Regions from separate parts of the Homo sapiens genome. Here region 1 is linked to region 2. Evidence: fine-mapped expression QTL. A gene starts in region 2. The other region holds a variant in brackets. All regions are shown on one strand. Distances are between the middles of the regions.

Region 1 (5,377 bases), 66 kb before region 2:
CCTAATCTTCATAAGAACTTGAGCCAAAACTTTAAGAAGAGGGGTTTCTTCAATTTTTTTTTTAAATTTAAGGTATAATTTATGTAGAATAAAATGCACATCTCTTCAGTGTTCAGGTTTGACAATTGCATATGCTTATGTAATCACCATCAAACACAAGATATAGAACATAACCATCAGCCCAGAAAGTTCCCTCATGTTCCTGGCCACCTTTTGACTTGTACCAACATAGATCAATTGTGTTTGTTCTAGAGATTCATATAAATGAAATCATACTGTATATACTTTTTTTGTGTCTGGCTTATTTCACTCAGCACAATTTTTTTTGAGGTTCATCCTTGTTGTGGGTCTAACAGAAGATGGATTGTTGACGAGGCCTGGTGGTTCATGCCTGCAATCCCAGCACTTTGGGAGGCTGAGAGGAGAGGATCACTTGAGGTCAGGAGTTCGAGACTAGCCTGGCCAACACGGTGAAACCCCGTCTCTAATGAAAATACAAAAATTAGCCAGGTGTGGTGGCATGCATCTATAGTCCCAACTACTCGAGAGGCTGAGGCAGGCGAATCGCTTGAACCCAGGAGAGGGAGGTTGCAGTGAGCCAAGATCGTGCCATTGCACTCCAGCCTGGGGGACAGAGTGAGACTCCATCTCAAAAGATAAAAAATAAGATGGTTCATTGTATTGCTGAGTGATGTTCCATTAAACGGAGATGCTGCATTTTGTTGATCCTTTCTGTTGACATGCCTTGGGATTGTTTGCAGTGTTTGACTCTTATGAGTATGGCTACTGTAAACATTCTTGTATAAGTCTGTGTGTAGACATTTGTTTTCATTTCTTTTGGGTTAATAACTAAGAGTGGAACTGACTGCTGGGTCATGGGGTAGAAGCATGTTTATTTACTGCCATAAGAAACTGCTAGACACATCTTCATCCACAATGATAAAGAGTTCCAGTGTCTCCACACACTTGTCAATGTTCATCGTATTTCACCTTAGCAATTTTAGTGGACGTGAAATGTTATCTTATTGCAATTTTAATTTGTGTTGTCCTGATGACTGGGGACATTGAACACCTTTTCAGTGCTTACTGATCATTCATTTGTCCTGTGAGATACCTACTGAATTCATTTGCCTGTTTAAAAAATTAGGCTGTTCATGTTTTTTGTTGTTGATTTGTAGACATTCTTTATATATTCTAGACCCAGAAAAGGAAGGTTTTTAAAAGTAAAACAGTAGCCACTGATCATGATATCCCGGTCCTTTAAGCTGAATACCTGCCACCCCTCCCATTCCACCTCATATATCACTTTGGGTGGTGTGCTGACTTTAGAATGCACCCACTGTCACCCAAATGGCTGAAATGCTAAATTCTGTTTAATCAAATTCAACTGACTCGTGAAGATCCATTTCTACCGAAAGCAGAAAACAAAACAAATGAACCAATAAAAGCAACGAATCTTACTGCTTCCAGGTAAACTCTCTCCCATTTGACACTTAATCTTTGTATAATTACTCTGGCCATTGAGGATTTCATTTAATTAATCACAGGGTAAACTCTTTTTCAGAGTTTCATCCTCTTGAAAGTCCTCCTGTCCCACCAAGGGATAGTCAGGAAGTTGTTTCTATTCCTCATGGGGGCAAAGTAGACATTCCTGGTTCTCTGTCTGTCCTCTAGTTTCAAGTCTGACTGTGTGGGAGGAACTTAGGTTGTTCTTCTGGTGTCTGGAGGTCGGCTCCACCCCTGGGCCATGTGCTCTGCCCACCGTGATCCTCTCTTGGCCTCCAGCTGCAGGGGTTTGTCTCCTACCAGGCACCAACCTCTTCCTCTCCCGCGACCCTTTTAGTACTACTGCTCCCCACTCCCATCCCACACAGAAAGTTCTAGATCTCACCCAAGCCACACAGAAACCCAGGGAACCTCCTCTATGGCATCTCAGATTCCCTCCATATCTAAACGTTTCACACCATCATTTCTCCTCTACTGAAGCCCCCCAGCATGGGTGTAGATCACCTTGCAAGGCAGTCTCTGCCTGGAATTCTAAACAGAAAGTGGAGCACAAGCTTTCAGATTCTTCTTTGGACCATCTGAAATGTCCATAATCTCTCCTGCACTCTAGGTATAGTGTCTTAATCTAATAATCTCATTAACTGAAAATGTCTCTCATCTCTGCCCCCCACATCCCAGCCCAAGAAGGGCTGTTCACCTTGCTGGGGGACAGGGAACTGCTCTTGGGTCATTTGTGAATCCTTCTCTACACTATGGTGTGTGGTGAAAACCCCATGCTTGTCCTCTAAGATTATTGTATTTAAAAGAAATGTATGCGAATTTAGGAAACCCTTTCCTCTCTTAATGGCCCGGCTCTTGCAGTTGAAATCTTGGCTTTCAGTCCTCCTGTTCTTGAGTTTATTTAAGTATCTGAAGCTCAGCATCCTGTCTTCATTCCCACTTTCCATTTCTCCTTCATTCCAGCTACTGCTCATGAAGATAATGGAAACTGTGGCTAAGTAGGTGGAAATCACAAATAAGGAGTGAAAAAAGAAAGCACATTAATATAATTCAAGGTATTAATCTGAACACATTTACTTTGATGTTAACTATGAATGACTTATTCCCTCCTCCAAAAATAAAAAAAAAAGAAGAAGAAAGAAATCGTGTATTCCTGCACTCAGCTCCAACTTGGCTCCTACTTGGCCCTCCTACATTTGCTGAGCCTCTGGACTTTCCAAGCCTTAGGCTCTCAGATCCCTTTTGTGGCGCCTGCTTGACTGTCAACTCTATGTCTGGCATTGCCTGGTGTCATGAAAAGATTTTCTCTGGTATCCAGCTCCACAGGACCT[A/G]TCACTCCTGGGCACGGAAGGGGCAGGATACAAACCCTGCGGGCAGGAACTCCTAGGAAATCCTCCAGATCGATTTCTTGATAATTCAGATGAGCCTAACTAAGTTTGGATTTTGAGCTTGGTGACAGCCACCTCCAATATGGCCATCTGTAGTCCCACCTCCTAGTATCAATGCTTTGTGTGGTCCCCTTCTACATCGGATCAGGGTTGGCCCACGTGACCGATGGAGTAAGGTCGAGTGATGGTACGGCTATAAAAGACATTGTGGCTTCTGCCCTTGTCGCTCTCAAATCACTAGCACTGGAGAAGCTGGCTGCCATGTTGTGAGGACACTCAGGCAGCCCCATGGAGAGGTCTATGCAGCAAGGAGCTGAGGCCTCCTGCCACAAGCCATGTGGGTGAACCATCTTGGAGCAAACCCAGACTTACAGTCGCAGGCTAATGTGGCAGACAGGACTCATCCATCTAGCCCCATCAGCTCAGAGCTGAGCAAGTAGAGGCCTAGAGAGGTCAAATGATCCATCACCACCACACATCTGGTCAATGTCCAAGCCACACCTTGCCTTCCAGTCCCATTTTAGATAAACTGATTGATCTTCAGCTCAGAGTAGCTTCTTGCGATGGGTGTGGTGGCTCACGCCTATAATCCCAGCATATTGGGAGGCCTAGGCAGGCGGATAACTTGAGGTCAGGAGTTTGAGACCAGCCTAGCCAACATGGTGAAACCCCATATCTACTAAAAATAGAAAAATTAACTGGGTGTGGTGGCACATGCCTGTGGTCCCAGCTACTCAGGAGGCAGAGGCACAAGAATTGCTTGAACCTGGGAAGCAGAGGTTGCAGTGAGCCAAGATCGCACCACTGCACTCCAGCCTGGGCAACGGAGTGAGGATCTGTTGAGACAGATCAAAAAAAAAAAAAAAAAAAAAAAAAGGGAGGGTGGCTTCTTGGATTTCACCATTCGTGTTTCCTGTGCGCTGGCTTCTCCATCCTGTGGCGCCTGGTCATTAGCAGAGTCTAGGACATCCTATTGCAGTAGGCAGGGAGCTGGAGTGGGGTAGGGCAGGCTGATGGGCATCCTGGGCTGAGATAATGTGTCTAAAGACACAGCAGTGTGAACATGGGTGGCATTTTTGGAGAGGGGTGAGTTGTCTACTGCAAAGGAAGGCAGGGGCCATACAGAAGAGCACCTTCACTATGGCATAAAGTGACACTTCCTGGAGCTCCTGAGACAGCCAAGGGCAGGTGTCAAAGTTCCTGCCTCGAGTTCAAAACAGGACAGTGTCTGTCCTCGAAGGTGGAGGGCCCCAAACAACAAACACCCATGGGAGGGTGTGTGTTATTAGCCTGAGTATTGTGCAAGGTAACATGCCGTCAAAGCAGGCAGGGTTTGGTCAGTCCCATTCATGCTTGATCAGGGGAGATGTTTCCAGAAAATATAAAGCTGGAGGGTGCAGAAGAGAGTCCCTGCAATAGCAGATCTGGGGCTAGCCCTGATGACCAAGAATGCTGACCTTTTCGGCAAACTTTCTCAGCAGGCTCTCAACAACCTCTGCACCTGAGCTTCCCAAAACAGGCTGAAGCAGCAAAGGCAGATGGAATGTATTGATTCCTTTGGTTTTGTTTCATCTTGTTTTCATTCACTGCAGTAATCTTCTTCCCAGGAAAGCAGAGGATTTCCTGGAATAAGGATCCTAGCCCTTCTCTATAACCTGCATATGGGTATCACTTTTCAAGGCCAATTTACAGACATATGTTTCTTGCCAGTAAGTTCAAAGATGTAACCACATCAAGTGCAGAAAGCCTGGTTCTTAAAGAGAAGGATAAAGCCGAGTTGGAAGACGGTGGGTTTTCTAGCCCCAATCTCCACCTTGTTCCAAAACCTATGGTAACCCCAAGAGGTGAGGAAGGTTGAAATTTTTCAGGCTTATACAGGCAAATAACTTACTTAATTTTTTTGATTGAATTTAGTGCAGCTCCTAACCCCTTATTTACATTCAGTCACTATCAAAATTTTCTCACTGTCCTTTAAGTAAAAATGGAATCAGTTATGGATTTTTTTTATTCCTCTTTCCTCTCTTTCTCACCAGGTGTTAAACTTGAGTGAGGTGTATTCCGGGTTGGGAGGCACCGTGTGTCTGCAACCCAGACAGTCAATGTTCATTGGCCCCAGGACATTGACACCTACCCAGCTACCCCCTGTATCTGTGGCCTCTCCACTCTCCAGTTGCCAGACCTAAGCAGGTGCCCCGTGTTCTCTTTATCCCACTACCAAGGCTCTGCAGCCTGCTCTCAGGCACACCTGTCCTCTCTACATGGCATGGAAACGTTGGCTGCGCCACCCTGGGAAACTGGGGGCTCTGGGAAACCACGTGTGGCCCATCCGCTGGGGCCCCTCCATGCTTCTGGTGCCACGGCACACGTGGGCTTCTCAAGAGACTTGCTGCCCCTTTGTCCCTCCCCTTCACCTTCAATTTACTTGAAGAAACCAAAGCCTGGGCTTTGTAAAGAGTATTGTCACTGCCATGTGTTTAAAGAAA
Region 2 (5,377 bases):
TGATGCCTAAGTGGAGACTTGATGGATTGACTTGATGCAGAGTTTACCCTGCAGACAGGAGGAAACGGGCTGGTGTGTACAGAGAAGCTTCTCAAATTTCTGAATGGAGAAAGTGGGGTGTCAGGAAGAAGAGGTGAGGGAGAAGCTGGCCAAGTCGTCAGGGGTTCCTTTGGCTTCTAGGCAGCTTGAGCATTATTCTTCTCATCAAGACACAGTGAGGGCCCTTTTTTCATCCTACCAGGAGGTTTTCCAGATTCACTGTGGGCATTATGTCCTCTAAGAAGCCTACCCTAATTCTTGTCCCTCCTTAGACACTCATCATCTGTGCTCTTCCTGCACTCTAGGAAACCCCTCATGATGGGTTGTGTTTTAAGGTGTATCCTCCCCACGGCCTGCCAGCCCCTTTGAAGAAAGGGCTGCTCTTTCTCACCTCTGTATCTCAGTGCCTGGCCCAGTGCACAGTCCCTGCAGCTCAGAAACATCTGGACCCCTGAGTGCCTTTAAGGAGGCCAGAGGGGAAAGACTGACAGATGCTGCTCCTCAGTTCCCTCCAAGCCAGTGGCACACGTAAGTGCTCGGCACAGGGTCTTTCTGAGCGCTCGAAGTTGCTAGAGACGCTAGACTTCAGGTATAGGTTTTCAACAGCTGAAACAGAGGCTGTGGCAATTTCCTAAAATTGGTTGCTTTTACTACAAATAACAGTGATTGTGCTCTGCTAATAGCTGTGCTCCACAATTCTTAAACTTAGCCTTCCACTTTTCCTTCTCTCCTTCCTTTCCTTCCTTCCTTCTTACCACTGCCTGCAATTCTCAGACAAGGGCTTTGACATGCAGAGTGGTGGGGAGAGAGGTGCTCTTTAAGGTGATGCAAACACTCTTTTCATTTCTGCTGTGGCTGGACTCATAGTTGAGTTCTCTGCTTGACATTTTGAGGGTAACAATAGCATTGGAATGGGTAAGGGCTGGGCAGTCTGAGCTGAGTCTTCTGTGCCTCAGGAGGCTCAATTTCTGGAAGGGTGGGAGCCGGAGTGGAGCAATAAGGGTGAAAACATCTTTTGGAACAGTCTGTTTTCATTGCCTCTTCTTCCAGGGTGACAGCAGGTGGCAAGGAGAGGGCCACTGATCACTGTGCCCCCACTCCAGACCCTAAGTTTTAAAGGATAAGTATTAAACTCTTCTCGTCCTCTTGGAGCAGAAGAGCCAAATCCAGCCGGCTCTGCAGCTTCTGGCAGGTTAAAAAGCATGCATTTCCACATGACTTGCTGATTTACACCACATTTTGACATGTTTTAAAAACCTCCCTGCAGTTCCTTTTGCTGGCTCCCCTGAACACTGGTGTTGTGGAGCTCTGAGCAGAGCTCCAGGTTTATTTTCTGGCGTCTGCTGTCTATGTGCCGCCTTTGTTTTGGGCTCTCCCCAGCACATTGCCCCGTTGTCCTTGAGGGAGGAAGCCAGCCAGTCTCTGGCTTCCTTTGTAACTTCCCAGTTCCTCCACTCACAGCCTCTGCTCATCTGCTCACCCACCCCAACCACTTTGTTTTAAGTGCTGCGGGATTGAATTTCTCATCTTCAAATGCAAACAACCATTTGGCTTCGTGTCCATTACACAGGCACCTCTGGGGGCACATGCAGGCACTGTGGCCCCGAAAAACTCTTCAGAGGTGAGCGGCTTTCAGGATGAGAGGGCCAACAATGGCTCATCTCCTAAAGACCTCGATAAACATAATCAGTAGCCCCAGAAAACACAACAGCTGTCCCAAGCCTATCCCCTTTGCACCTATCTCAGAAAAGGCAACATGCAGAGTGGTCAGGAGTTCAAGTCCTCAGGGCCCTACTCTGAAGCTGTGACCCTGACAGGTCACTTTAGCGCTCAGCTTCCCTTTCCTCATCTGTAAAATGGGAATAGAAACTGAATCTGCTTCATGGGGCCTTGTAAGTATTACATAAGCTGTCATATGCAAAATGTCCATCACATAGTTCACCGCCCCAGGCATCCTAGAAACTATTAAGTCACGATAAGGAGGTTGCTACTGTCCTGGGACCTGGGGAGCTCGGCTGTCCAGTCCGAAAGGGCCTTCTCGCCCTCGAGACCCCTTCAAGTCCCTTTCTCTCCGGGCCCGGGTCCCAGAGTCCCCTTGTGCTTGCTCCTGAGGGTGACCTGCCCGTGCCCCGGGGCGAGCACAGGTGCGGCCCTGGCCACAATGCGGGCGTGGCGAGCCGACACCCGGGGAGGCCAAGGGCGCCTCGAGGGAGGGAGGGAGGAGGCTGACCCGGGCGTCCCGAAGGACCCGCCCGGCCCCGGACTCCGGGCGGCAGCCGGCCTCGCGCCCCGCCCCCGCCCCGGGAGCCCCGCCCAGTCCCGTCGCGCCGCGCCGCCCCACCGCCCGGGTTGGCTGCCCTGGAGGCCACGCGCGGCGATTTGCCACGCGCCGCGTCACCGGGCCGCTCCCGGCCTGGGCTCCCGGGGGCTGGTCAGGGAGGTGGCGGCGGCTGAGCGGCGGAGCGGGGGCGGCAGGGCGCGACGCCGCCGGGCCGCCCCGCCCTGGGAGGCGCCCGGGCCCTCATCAAGTGACCAGTATCCCTTCCAGGGGAACACGGTCCTTCAGAGGAAAGCGAGCTCCAACCCGCGGCCCCGGCGCCAAGCCGCCGTCATCTTCTTCCTGTGCCAGGTGATCGTCTCCTCACCCACCCGGAAAAACATAGTCCGCCCCCACGTCCTTGTGGAATAGCGCCCGCTTCCAAGCACCGTGACTCTCTTTGCCCTACCCTTGTCTTTCCCATTCCAATTACTCTAGAACCCACCGAGAGGATAATTCAGTCCTGAAAAGAAACTGATGGGGAGAAGCGAGGAAGGGAACCCAGGAGGGAGGGGAGGCAGGGCTGCGGAGGGACACCGAGGCGGCGGAGGTAGTGCGCACGCGCAGCACAGAACGAGTTCCGGTCTGGCCGAGGCTTGTCTCCTAAAAATAGCCCCGGTGTGGGGATCCGTGCGCGGATGTCCCGGCGAGTCCCGGGCTGAAAGAGGCGGCTCCGGGCGGCGCGAAGCGCTGGTGGCGGGCCCGGGCTGCGGCGTGTGCGCGCCCGCCAGCTGCTCCGGAGATACGGTGAGGGCCGCGGGCAGCGGGGCTCAGTCCGCGACGCCGGTAGTGCTGGAGGGGGGCGGCGTCTCGCTTAGGGGACCGAGTAGGGGTTGGGGTGGAGGTGCTGGGGCGGGGGACGGCGCGGCCGAGAGGGTCGCCCGGGGGGCTCCGGGGACCCCTGGACGAGGCCGTGTCCGGCTTGGAGGGGGCCAGGGTCGCGTTCGCGCATTGGCGGGGCGGGTAGGGTGCTGGGAGGCGGGTAGGGTGCTGGGAGGCGGCGAGGGGTGGTCGGGTCGGGGTCGGCGCTGAGGAGCTAGGCGCCCGGGGAGGTGGGGGCGGGGTGCCCTGAGGGCGGGCCGGTGGGGCTGGATGGGGCTCGGCTGGGCGGGCCGAGGGGAGCTCAGTCGCGCGGGCTGGTGGCGAGCAGCCTCCCCGGGCGCGCACCCCTTGGGGCCGGGGGGCGGTGGTGGACGTCGCCTCCTTGAAAGTTGAAGGAGTTCTCGGGAGACCCCGGAGAAGGTGCGCTCTGAGGGCCCTTTCCTTCCCCTTTTCCCTCCAAGCCCGGGGGTCTCCCCGAAGGGATTAGCCCCAAGTGCGGGGGGCCTTCTGCCCTGTTGGACTTGAAGAAGTTCCCCCACTTCTGCTTTGGGAGAAGATTGGTCTAACGGGGTGGAACGCTTAGGTACGAATTCTGTGAGTGTGTAGATGTCAGTGGCGGGGTCGGTGTTTGGGGCGGACACCTGCGGTTGCGGACGCCCGATCGTGCGGGGAGACGTCGCGGGGACAGAGGGGCTGCACAGGGAACCGCTGGCTGAACCCCTGCCATCCGGCTAGATCCCAGCTCGCAGAAAATATTTTTTGTGTTAGAAACTTTGCTTTTTGGCTCGATTTCATGCCTTTGAGCTGTGAGGGTTAAAGTAAGTGAGATAGTGCAAACAAGTTTGGAAAAGGTGAGCAATCCTGAATAAGAAAACAGTTTTTCTTTAAAAGTGTAACTATAGAATTGTTGCTCACATCCGAAATAGATTCCGGAGCTGTGAAGCGAGCCTCCTGTTATGGTCCAGCAGGGAACCGTGTGTAGCTTGAATATAACATAGTGTTAACCTGCGTTTTAGTTTACAGTGAGATTGGGATTCCAATAAATGCCCTATTAGAAAGGCCTGCTGTGATGTGTTAACAATAGCATATGTATTTTTAAACAAACATTGTCTTAACATTTTTTCGGGTTTTTAGCACAGTATGTTTCCCATGTGTCTTGTATCATCTATTACTATATGAAGAGGAGGTTCTCTAAAGCTGTAATTAGGTGTACATTACCCAAGAGTACTTTCCCTTTAAGAATCCAGCTGTGTTGTTTTGGCAACTGCTAAGTACTCTAGTTGTCAGTTTTAGAATCTGTGTTACCTTGGCAGTTCTTGAACAGTCTGTGGAAAAGGTAAACAAAATAGTTCTTTTTTAAACATACAAAAATGACATTTCTTTTAATATGAATTTAGGAAGTGAGGATAAAAATGACTGCATTGTGCCTTTATGGCTTTTGTATGTACTGTGTGTGTGTGTGTGTGTGTGTGTGTGTGTGTGTGTATTTTTGGAGAGCTCAGTCTCCATTTCTTTTTCTGTAAATTACAACTTTTGTTTTAGGGAATCAAGAGTTTTCACTAAAGCAGATGCTGATTTAGATTAGTTTATATTAAATGTCATAAACACACACCTGTATATCATAAAACATTAAGATCAGTATTTGTTATATATGGTGACACATTGACAATAGAATCACCTTTATTTTAATTCTCAGTGAGCATTGTTGCAAAAAGTTGTGATAATGGTGTTACAATAATCAAAAGTACTCTGAAGAGCTAAAACTGGTGATTTGAATGTTTGTAGACTCTAGATTAACAGTTTTGTTGAAGAGTGTGGTTCCAGTAGCTACTTAGTGAAAACAGTGACTGTGAAGTAATGGTGACCTCTCTAAACGCAATTATTTGCTTACCTATTTCCTTTAATTCACACTATGGTTATATATAAAATTGTGGTTTGATTTCATATTAGAACAAAAGTGTTAAAATTACACTTTACTTGCCTTCAAAAGTTTTTTAAAAAATTAAATTCTGGGGGGTGTTCAGTGGAAGGAAAATAGCTTATTGACACCCAGAAATAATTGTAATGTCACCATGTTGAATTATGGTTTGAGAATAATTTCCTTCTGTATTCTTAGAGTTTGTTTTCATATGGGTATGTGTGACAAGGATTTTTTTTTGTAAATGCAGTTGGAAATAATCTCTTAAAAAGGTTGAGTTG

The links. PIP is the estimated chance that this variant, and not a neighbour inherited with it, causes the effect.
Region 1: its variant is the best candidate, but not a certain one, in a credible set for the expression of MEF2A in testis (GTEx, PIP 0.60).

What each region holds. Positions count from the first base shown.
Region 1 is chr15:99,496,621-99,501,997 of GRCh38, forward strand. LOC105371019 (a long non-coding RNA gene) reads right to left here. Exons shown (of 3, transcript XR_001751710.2): 3 at 877-2,500. Among named protein-coding and RNA genes, the nearest start is that of LINC03080, 64 kb to the left of the region's middle. RefSeq lists an enhancer at 5,367-5,377. The variant A/G (reference allele first, on the strand shown) is at 2,838.
Region 2 is chr15:99,563,002-99,568,378 of GRCh38, forward strand. It overlaps MEF2A (myocyte enhancer factor 2A), which reads left to right and starts at 2,983. Exons shown (of 12, transcript NM_001319206.4): 1 at 2,983-3,103. RefSeq lists silencers at 2,154-2,593, 3,434-3,483 and enhancers at 2,305-3,280, 3,281-4,254.